Homo sapiens: one gene and its partners. The protein of the gene in region 1 purifies or fractionates together with the protein of each later gene. This does not show direct contact. Each region holds a gene or a part of one and is shown in the gene's direction. Other genes may lie near its edges.

Region 1 (2,773 bases):
CGCAGTCCCTGATTGTGGCCAGTTGCCGGAGGAGAGCGTCAAGGACAATGTGGAACCAGTCCCTACTCAGCGTACCTGCTGTCAGGACATTGTAAATGACGTCAGCTCTGATGGCTCAGAAGATCCAGCAGAGTTCAGCAGAGGTCAGGAAGGCATGATCAACCTTAGGATTCCAGATCATCTTCAGTTAGCTAAGAGCTGTGTATGGGAAGGTGATGCTTTCAGAGTTTCCCCTCTATGATTAGTTTACATATTTCTTGGGAGACTGGGTGGGGTGCTGGGTCCTTCAGGAAAAGATAGGACTCAAGATAAAGGATTCTTTGAAATTCTGTTATTACTCATGTCCTTCATCTCAGGCTGTCAATCCCATCACACTTTGGAAAATCTATTTGGAAATAGGCTTTGATTTCATTCGTAGGGTAGCAGAAGACTTGCTGGAAGAATGCATTTTGTGAACATGAGCCCCTTTTTGATTTGAGTTGGTTCTGGAGTTGTAACCTTTCTTTCAGGTGGTTATTTTAGGGCTTTTAAGGGGTTGCTTTACTTCTCAGGTGAATTGTATAGCTTCTCATGAGAGCTCAACTTTATTTTAAACCTTTTAAACCTTCTGTCGCCCTCAAATTCAAACCACACACAAACCAGGTTCTATTTATGCTCGTTTTTCTTTCTTCTTGGCTCAAAGTGTGAAGAAGTTTTTAGACTGCTTTGTAAAAATCAGCCTTTATCATTTGATAATGCTCCCAAACCCTGCTGTGTTTCAGGAGACAGCTGTGCCCATTCAGAAACAGAGATCAACATTGTAAGTTGGAATGCTCTTATTTTGCCACCTGTCCCCGAGGGCTGTGCTGAGAAGACAATGTGGTCTCCACCTGGCATTCCTTTAGACAGCCCGACAGAGGTCCTTCAGCAGCCCCGGGAAACCTGAGGACATGCAAACAACCAGTCATGTTCCAACTTCAAGCCGGTAACTGCACACAACAGGCCTGGGAGCGAACTGTGTGAAGGACCTTAATTCAAATCAGAGAAAATCATTATTTATTTTTTTGTAGTAGTAATGTCATATGAATGTATCTTAAAACGTGTGCCCTTTTATATTATTTATGCCTTAAATGTTTTCTTCCCCATTCCTTCCTCCCCCTCGGTAGGAAACAACCTTGTTTTGCATAGTATTCAGTCACCTGGAGGGCAGAGGGGTCCTTCCATGTTTTCTAACAGCTATAGTGACAGCAAGAGCTCCTCATGCAAAGGATCCCATCTCTTGGCTGCTTCGGCTAGGAGGGAATGCAGGGGCCCGTTGAAGGTTGCCACCAGCTGGGTTTTCAGGTGGAAAATGGTCTTTCAATAGTGTATTCTCAGACTTTTTTTTGTTTGTTTTTTGAGATGGAGTCTTGCTGTCATCCAGGCTGGAGTGCAATGGCTCGATCTTGGCTCACTGCAACCTCCGCCTCCCAGGTTCAAGCAATTCTCCCGCCTCAGCCTCCTGAGTAGCTGGGACTACAGGCACCTGCCACCACGTCCAGCTAATTGTCTTGTATTTTTATTAGAGACAAGGTTTCAGGCTGGTTTTGAACTCCTGACCTCAAGTGATCCACCCGCCTCCGCCTCCCAAAGTGCGAGGATTACAGGCGTGAGCCACCACGTCTGGCCTGTATTATCAGACTTCCTGAGAACACTTTGAAATCAACTGCAGTTGTGACCCATGTTTATAATAACAGACCTGGCTGACGGATTTTACAAGAGTGCCTTCCACAGAAGTGGTAATGTGACCTGTTGACTTTGTATCTGCACGTGGGCACGAGTGATGTTCAGTTTGCTAGGCACTAGTCATAGTGTTATGGACGTGGTGGAGTGTAAGGTCTTGATGAATTACGGCAGTATGCAGAAAAGGAACCAAGGCCAGAGAGACAAATAATGCCTCATGTCCCACTGCTTTAAAATTACATTAATTTATAAAATGGCCACTATGGGCTCTTTTTGACTGTTTCTCGGAGTAGGAACAAAATAAGACATTAAATGGTGGCTTGAAGAGAAAGATACACATTTTCAGAAGAAAGAAAGGGGAGGGCTGCAGGGAGCCTGTCTTGGCGGGAGCTCTCCAGTCTGTTGGATTAGCACAGGGACACGCTTATGGTGCCATGACGCCGAAACTAGTCATCCCCCATCTCCAGCATAGGCAACGGCCTGCAGGGGTGAGTGTCAGAAAAGACTTACTTTGGAAGAAAAGGGTTTTTTTTTGTTTGTTTGTTTTTTGTTTTTTTTTGTTTGTTTGTTTTGGGTTTTTTTCCTGAAATTTCCTGATACCTTTTTCAGAATGTCACCCTTGTAAATAGGCACCTAAAGCCAAGTTGGTCAGCAGAGCTCCTGACCACGGCTGCCTCTGCGTGACAAGGACATTTGCAGCTGCCTTTGGAAGGCTCTTCACATTAAAAAACAATAATTATGTAAGTGTGTTTCATAGCTTGAGTCAAGCTTTCAAGGATCACTGCTCCTTTGTGCATTGTGCATCCCTTTGGGGAAAGAAACAGAAAATTATTCTCTTTCTATAGAGTCAAGCAATTCCAGCAGAAGTGAAGAAATGTTAGTTTCCCAGAAATCGCAGTGGAATAGAATACAATACTGTGTTAACCAACTTTCTGTATAAATGCATCAGTATTCCCTTACATATGTCTATATATTTTATAATAGAACTGTTAGTGAAAATGTGCTTGTTTAAGCTGGGTCACTATGCAAGAGTTACTTCCAGTAGAATGTAGTGAATGTAATTCCCTAGTCG
Region 2 (3,558 bases), on another chromosome or scaffold:
GGTGAGACCTCGGGTCCCTTTATTGCATTTGGTCTTTATAATAGTCCTATTATTATGATTACAGTTGTAGATGAGGTTAAGCGGAGGTCCCACAGCTAGTACTGGGGAGAGCTAAGGTGTCATCTCACAGTCTGATCTCTTAACCACTACACCATACTGATTCTGACCTTAATTTTTTTGCTCTTCTTCCCTGTTTCTCCTTTGTAACCTTGAAAGGATAGGTGAACACATGCTCATAAAAACCCATGTATGCGCTCATAAAATGCATGTGTATTGGCAGGCTTGATCTCTCAAGGGTAGGACTGTCTGTGACACATCTTAGATAGGTGAGGCCATATAAGCCAACTAGCATTTGACAAGTAGAGTGTGGAAAAAGCAAACGATTGTTTGGAGACTAATGTTAGTGTATCTAGGAGTACTAGAATGGAATTGGGGGAAAAAATTAAGTAGAAAATATACCAGAGGACCTAATACTAAATCCTTAGAAGTTTTGCAGAGCATAGAGACTCTAATTGTATATTAAAAAGCATCTGCTTACAAAAGTTACAAATATAGATAGTAGTTATTTCCTTGTTTCTTTTTTCTTAAAATTCTTTATAAGAACCAGATAACGCATGTTATTTTAGATTGACAGGAGTCCTCCTCTTTTCAATATTTATACCGTGTACAGATATTGGATTATGACATTTCTAGGATTTTTTGGAAGTTAGAAGATACCCTATTTTTTAAAATACCAGTTTACAATTAATTAATTCCACATTTTATGCTATGTTAGTCACATAAATGATTTTCTGAGTACCTCCCTTTATGTAGTAATCACATCTGACCTGTCTTCAGTCTTCCTTTGATGTCCTTCCAAAATGAGGTCAAATACAATGCTACTTTCTCTTTGAACTCCTAGCTCTTAATGCTGATGTGAATTTTTTTCCCCCACAACCTGATGGCTTTTGCTTTGACTTCATAGTTTTGTCACTTGTCATTTGCTTCACACAGTAGTAATACCTGTTATGCTAGACTGTAAGCCTGTGGAGGGACATGGACCACATGGTACTCATTTGTGTGTCTCTTGTATTTCAGTGAGGTGCTTTTTTTAAATTTAATCTAGCAATGCTGCTCTATATATTATGTTATTTAAGATCCTTTCTTCTCTGCCTCAAGCAGGGCCATTCATTTCTGCCACCTGTCCAACTTATTACCCAGTTAACCCCCTCCCTTCATAAGCCTTGGCCTCCCTGAGCTTGACTGCTTAGGGTTGTTTCTTTGCACCGGAAAGATATAAGTTAATTTTTGTCCAACTTTCAAATGGTTATATCTCCCTTTTCCATGTGTTGAAAATATGGTATGTAAATGGAAATTTACAAACAAGTGTTTGTTTGATCCCGTGAATTCATTAGGATCTGCTTGTGGTTTTGTAAAGTGTAACCCTCTCTTAATTCTTTCATTCTTTGTGTTTCCAAATTGCAGGGCCTTAAAGCGGCTGACAATGACCCCACAGCTCCACCATATGACTCCCTGTTAGTGTTTGACTATGAAGGCAGTGGCTCCACTGCTGGGTCCTTGAGCTCCCTTAATTCCTCAAGTAGTGGTGGTGAGCAGGACTATGATTACCTGAACGACTGGGGGCCACGGTTCAAGAAACTTGCTGACATGTATGGTGGAGGTGATGACTGAACTTCAGGGTGAACTTGGTTTTTGGACAAGTACAAACAATTTCAACTGATATTCCCAAAAAGCATTCAGAAGCTAGGCTTTAACTTTGTAGTCTACTAGCACAGTGCTTGCTGGAGGCTTTGGCATAGGCTGCAAACCAATTTGGGCTCAGAGGGAATATCAGTGATCCATACTGTTTGGAAAAACACTGAGCTCAGTTACACTTGAATTTTACAGTACAGAAGCACTGGGATTTTATGTGCCTTTTTGTACCTTTTTCAGATTGGAATTAGTTTTCTGTTTAAGGCTTTAATGGTACTGATTTCTGAAACGATAAGTAAAAGACAAAATATTTTGTGGTGGGAGCAGTAAGTTAAACCATGATATGCTTCAACACGCTTTTGTTACATTGCATTTGCTTTTATTAAAATACAAAATTAAACAAACAAAAAAACTCATGGAGCGATTTTATTATCTTGGGGGATGAGACCATGAGATTGGAAAATGTACATTACTTCTAGTTTTAGACTTTAGTTTGTTTTTTTTTTTTTCACTAAAATCTTAAAACTTACTCAGCTGGTTGCAAATAAAGGGAGTTTTCATATCACCAATTTGTAGCAAAATTGAATTTTTTCATAAACTAGAATGTTAGACACATTTTGGTCTTAATCCATGTACACTTTTTTATTTCTGTATTTTTCCACTTCACTGTAAAAATAGTATGTGTACATAATGTTTTATTGGCATAGTCTATGGAGAAGTGCAGAAACTTCAGAACATGTGTATGTATTATTTGGACTATGGATTCAGGTTTTTTGCATGTTTATATCTTTCGTTATGGATAAAGTATTTACAAAACAGTGACATTTGATTCAATTGTTGAGCTGTAGTTAGAATACTCAATTTTTAATTTTTTTAATTTTTTTATTTTTTATTTTCTTTTTGGTTTGGGGAGGGAGAAAAGTTCTTAGCACAAATGTTTTACATAATTTGTACCAAAAAAAAAAAAAAAGGAAAGGAAAGAAAGGGGTGGCCTGACACTGGTGGCACTACTAAGTGTGTGTTTTTTTAAAAAAAAAATGGAAAAAAAAAAGCTTTTAAACTGGAGAGACTTCTGACAACAGCTTTGCCTCTGTATTGTGTACCAGAATATAAATGATACACCTCTGACCCCAGCGTTCTGAATAAAATGCTAATTTTGGATCTGGTGACTGGTTTGAACTTTTTCTTTTCTACTTGAGCTGCTTTGAATGTTGCAAAAATCCCAAGTACTGGGAACAACAGTACAAAAAGTATGTATTTGTTCTTGCACTATTCACCATTGAAACGCGTAGCATGGCAACCATGTACGGTGTGCAGCAGAGAGAATCATTTTGGACCTTCCCATCATCATAGAAGAAAAACATCAAGTGATTCAGGAATAGACCCTACTGGTGGTGATAGAAAAATCACATCCTTTACCTTCAGTGAACTTCGGTGTTAATTCTTAATATAACTCATGTTTTAATTTGTTTCTGCTCAAGTTAATTGTTCTGTTGACTGACAGGCCTTTCCCATTAGAGCCACCACCATAAGGGAAACTTCAGTAAAGTGGGTTATAGGACTGAACCTGGAAACTGCAGTGGACACCTGGAATTCTTGTGCAATTCATTGAAGCCATCGTTTTATGTACTTAGTGAAACACACTTAGATTTGACTGGCCTTTATCCATTGACTTGATCATTTGCTTCAGTTTGATATAGTAATGGTTGCAGAGGGCAACAAAAGGAAACAGTCTTGCTAAATTTTGTAAAATTGTTTATGTATCTTACTATGATTCATTCTGAATTTTAAGAGGCAAAGGAATTCTCCACTTGTATTTATCTGTTTGTTTCTTAATCATCACACCATATAGTCTTATACTGTACA
Region 3 (4,266 bases), on another chromosome or scaffold:
GAGGCAGGATGGTGGTCCCCAACAGGCTACACCCCAGCCCCAGAGGCCTCCCAGTCTGGAGATGGACTCCCTGCCCTCTCTCATCTTGGAGCAGTGAGCGCTAGGGACAGTCCTGGCCTGAGCCTCCCGGGCAGCCTGGCCTCCTTTCAAGCAGGCCAAGTGCACAGATGCTGCCTGCACCTGCACAGCCACCCGCCGTCGACAGGAGAGCAGAGGTACCGGGTCTGCTCCCATCACAGAGAGGAACGGGCTCCCCGGCCCGGCCCTGGGCTGGTCGGCAACCCCCACTCCCCACCCTGCCTGCTCAAAAGAAAGGATCCTCCTGCCTCCAGCCCCCTCCACCCCCTCTCCAGGACCTTCCTGACCGTGCGCTGGGCCTGTGCAGGTGTTGAGCCACACCCACACCATCCCAGGGGGCGGGGTCTCGAAGGGGAGAACAGGTGCCACAGTCAACAGGAGGGAGGGCTTCTGGCCGAGGTGGCAAGGAGGCTCCAGGAGGCGGCAGCGTTGACCTTGGGTGTTGAGGGATGATGAGAAGGAGTTCTGTAGGAAGGAAGGTGCTCCAGGCAGGGGGCCTCGGGGAACAAGGGGATGCTGGAGGAGGTGCGTGGACTGGGGGAATTGGGGGTGTCCTACGAGCCACGCTGGTATCAGAGGCGTGTGAACCAGAGCAGTTCCATACTGAATAAGAGCTGGGCAAAATGAGGTCGCGAGGAGGTGCGTGGAAGGCGGGCCTAGCGTTCAGTGGGATGCGGGGAGGCGCAGGAGACGCAGCCAGAGAGGCGAGGGGCCCAAGGAAGTGCTCAAGAGGTGTCCCCCGGCAGGGACTACAATGCAGATTCCCTGGAGCAGGGGCGAGCCGGGCCCAAGGAGCAGGAAATGAAGAAGCCAGGAATCCCAGCTGGTCCCTGACCCGGACGCACCCACCCTGCCTTCCCCACAGCCTGGCCTCTGGCTCTGCTCCCAACGCAGCAAGCCGGGGTATCTCCGACCTAGCCCTGGCCCTGCCCGCCGGAACCCCGCAAAAGCTATCACTCAGCCCTCGGCCCCGCCCCGGCCCCACCCCGGCCCCACCCCGCACTCTCACAAGGTGTCACTCAGCCCTCGGCCCCGCCCCGCCCGCCCCATCCTCCTCTGGCTCCGCCCCACCAGCCTCGTGCGGTCACCGCCCCGCCGGCGCACCTGCGCTGTCACTCAGCCCTCGGCCCCGGCCCCGCCCCGCCTGCCCCACTCGCACACGGGCTATCACTCAGCCTGCGCCCCGCCCTAGCTCGCCAGAGGCTCCGCCCCACCCGCCTGCCAACACGCTGTCACTCAGCCTTAGCCCTGCCCAGGCCGGCCCTCGGCCCGTCAGAGGCCTCCTTCGTGCTGTCACTCAGCCCTTGCCCCGCCCCCTCCCCGCCCCCCTCACACGTGCTGTCTCTGTCTCTGGCCCTGGCCCGCCCCGCGCACTTGCGCTGTCACTCAGCCTGGACGCGCTTCTTCGGGTCGCGGGTGCACTCCGGCCCGGCTCCCGCCTCGGCCCCGATGGACGCCGCGTTCCTCCTCGTCCTCGGGCTGTTGGCCCAGGTAAGGCATCGGCACCTGCGGGGGTCCCCGCTGCCTCCCTCGACGCTGCGGGACAGTGTCTTCAACTGCAGCCGCACAGGTCTCCCCCAGAACCACTGGCCCTGGTCGCCTTTGGGGGCCTGTGAGCGGAGTGGCTCCGGGTGGGTCCCTGGGCTGGGGGCAGCACCCCAGGGGTTGTGGGGAGTGAGTGTAACCAAACACTCCATCTGGTGGAATCACCCCCAGGACTGCAGAGTGCTGCTGGGGTCAGGGACCCCAGGCAGGGGCCACCCAGGTAGCCGTGCCCTCTCTTTGGAGGAACCGCTGCCGGGGTCTGGGGGTTGCCAGTCTTGAGTGGAGCAGAGAGAGGGGGGAGCGGCAGGAGTGCCCCTCTCTGGGGGGCTGGGGGCCAGGTTTCTATAGGGACTCCCTGCGGTGGGCACAGGACCCCTGGCTAGTCTTGGGTTTTGTCCAAACCCCCCACCCCAAGTTCCTGGCCAGCAGGGGTGGCTGCAGGCCCTGCCCCCAGGAACTCACCCTCACGGCTACTTCTCGATTGGGAGGGCCCAGCCCGAGCCAGGTCGCAACACACGGCCTTGCAGAGTGGCGTGTGGCAGCCCTGGGGGCTCTGTTCCTGGGCTTCACCTGGGACCCTGCCGCAGCTGCCTGGGGTGATCAGGCCTGGGGGCCCAGCCCCCAGAGGCTGCTGGACTCTGCCCCTAAAAATCTTGTCTGGACTGCTGGCACCGTGGTCTCTCCAACGTGGGAGCAAGCCAGAGTGGAAGGAAGCCCAGGCCTCAGCCCCCCACACCCGACATGGGTACTGCCTAGCTGGAGCCACGTCTCCTCACACCCTAGGGGGACCTAGACATGGAGGATGTGGCCTCAGTGGCTTCAGCCCCCAGGGACTGGGCTGGGCTGGGGCATGGCCGGCTGTGGTTGGGACGTCACTGGGTACAAGAGGGCAGCCTCTCTCTGGCCAATTCGAGAGAGAATGCACATAAAGGGCTTAGCGGTGCTCACAGTATTCATTGCTCTTGTGGTCCTGGGGTGGTCAGGGAGTGCTGGACACAGTGAGTAAGGGAAGCCACTCCTTTCCCAGCCCCCACTGAAGGGGCTTCCTGAGTCCCCTCATTCCCACAGGCCTCCCAGCTCCAGCTGGCTCCAATTTCAGCCCCTGGCAGCTGACCAGGCGCCTGGCCAGCCAGACCCTCCAGCAGCTGCCCCTGAGGGCACCACGGCTCCTGCCACCCCCGACTCCCCCATCTGGAGACAGTGGTGGGGGGAGACAGTGGCTCAGCATGCGTGCTCACCCCCCGGCCCTCCACCCCTCAGCCCTCTGCCGGGGAGCGCAGGCTGGGGGGCTCCATGCCTCCAGGGCCCTTCCCCACCTGCTCTGGGGACAGGGTTTCTTCCCTGGCACCCCAACCCAGGGCATGGTGGTGGGGAGGCTGGCGCCTGTGAAAACATTCCTCCAGACCTCTTCCTTTGGATTTGGGAGTGTCTGCCTTTCAAAAGGCCCCAGGGGGCTCTGTGGCAGGTGGGGAGGCAGGCAGGACCTCTCCCTCCTCAGAAGCCTTCCCTCTCACTGTCCCTTCTTTTCTCGCCCAGGGCTGGGGGACAATAACCCCCTCCCCCGACAGCTGGAGGCTGGGGGAGGTGGTGGAGGTGGGGGCCAGATGGCAAGGGGACTATCGCCAAGGCTCAAATTCACTCCACTGTGAGGCAAAATATGTCAGTGTCAGGACCCTGCCTGCCCCTCCCCCAGCAGCTCAGCTTTCAGGACTGTGAGCTCTCCTGGGCAGCCTTGGGGTCCTGGGCCGCCTCCTGGTGAGCCCCCAGGCAGGCAGCGTGGGCCCATCAGGGCCTTCTACAAGTGAGGGGTTGCTCCCCTGCTCGGGCCACCTCTGATTGCTGAGCTCACTCAGCCCCACCCGGAGGGTGTCTTCAGAACTGGCCCCTCTCAGCCCTGCTGCACCTACACCATCCCTAGTTGCTGGTTCTACACCTGGGACCCCACCCCAGCTGGGAGGCGGCTGAGGTCTGGGGCAGCACACTTGACTCACAGAGAACCCCAGCCTGCTGGGAAGGTCCCCACTTCTGCATCTGGGTTTTGGGAGCCCCTTGGTCTCTGGGAGACAGTCAGCAGCACCCTGGGGGCCAGGCAGGGGCTCTTAGCTCGGGTGACTGTGACCAAGGCCAAGAAGGGAAGTGGCTCCCAGGCCACTGTTCTTCCCACAGTGGAAGGACAGCCCCAGACACCGTGCTTTGGAGGGGACAGCTGCCTCCATGCCTCTTCTTCCACATCCCTTCTCTGAAGCCCGCAGCAGCTAGAGAGGGTGGGGCCCAGGGAAGATGCTCCAGCCGCTCTGGGCCAGGCCAACAGCTGGGGCCATTCCTGGCATGCCTGGCCATCCAGGAACGGGGTGGCCCCAGATTCCAGCCTGGGGGAGGGGTTGAAGCCTGAGAAGCTTGAGGGGCCTTCGCACTCTCTTCCCAGGCAAACCCACCCACACGCCACCAAGCGTGTTCCTAGAATCTCGTAGCACCCTTCCTTGGAAAACCGGGGGAGCAGGAGTGCAAGGTCGGCCCCAGAACCGCTCCTCGTTCCCGTCTCGCAGTGGTGTTCGTAAACCCCATTCCCACCTCGCAGTGGTGTTTGTAGACTGCAGCAAGCGCCCAGTGTGTGCAGAGCTTTCTTACACAGCAGCCCCTTGG

The links.
Region 2: the proteins of CDON (region 1) and CDH2 purify together in Homo sapiens (affinity purification with western blotting, with the first as the bait; one study listed by BioGRID). This does not show direct contact.
Region 3: the proteins of CDON (region 1) and CDH15 purify together in Homo sapiens (affinity purification with western blotting, with the first as the bait; one study listed by BioGRID). This does not show direct contact.

Annotation. Positions count from the first base shown.
Region 1 is NC_000011.10:125,959,094-125,961,866, reverse strand, and holds part of CDON (cell adhesion molecule-related/down-regulated by oncogenes isoform 2 precursor), read left to right. Parts: coding exon 1-143; coding exon of another isoform or gene 144-212; intron 213-761; coding exon 762-925; 3' UTR 926-2,773. UniProt on the Homo sapiens protein: Component of a cell-surface receptor complex that mediates cell-cell interactions between muscle precursor cells. Promotes differentiation of myogenic cells.
Region 2 is NC_000018.10:27,950,266-27,953,823, reverse strand, and holds the end of CDH2 (cadherin-2 isoform 1 preproprotein), read left to right. Parts: intron 1-1,464; coding exon 1,465-1,671; 3' UTR 1,672-2,858; downstream 2,859-3,558. UniProt on the Homo sapiens protein: Calcium-dependent cell adhesion protein; preferentially mediates homotypic cell-cell adhesion by dimerization with a CDH2 chain from another cell. Cadherins may thus contribute to the sorting of heterogeneous cell types.
Region 3 is NC_000016.10:89,170,305-89,174,570, forward strand, and holds the start of CDH15 (cadherin-15 preproprotein), read left to right. Parts: upstream 1-1,443; 5' UTR 1,444-1,527; coding exon 1,528-1,569; intron 1,570-4,266. UniProt on the Homo sapiens protein: Cadherins are calcium-dependent cell adhesion proteins. They preferentially interact with themselves in a homophilic manner in connecting cells; cadherins may thus contribute to the sorting of heterogeneous cell types.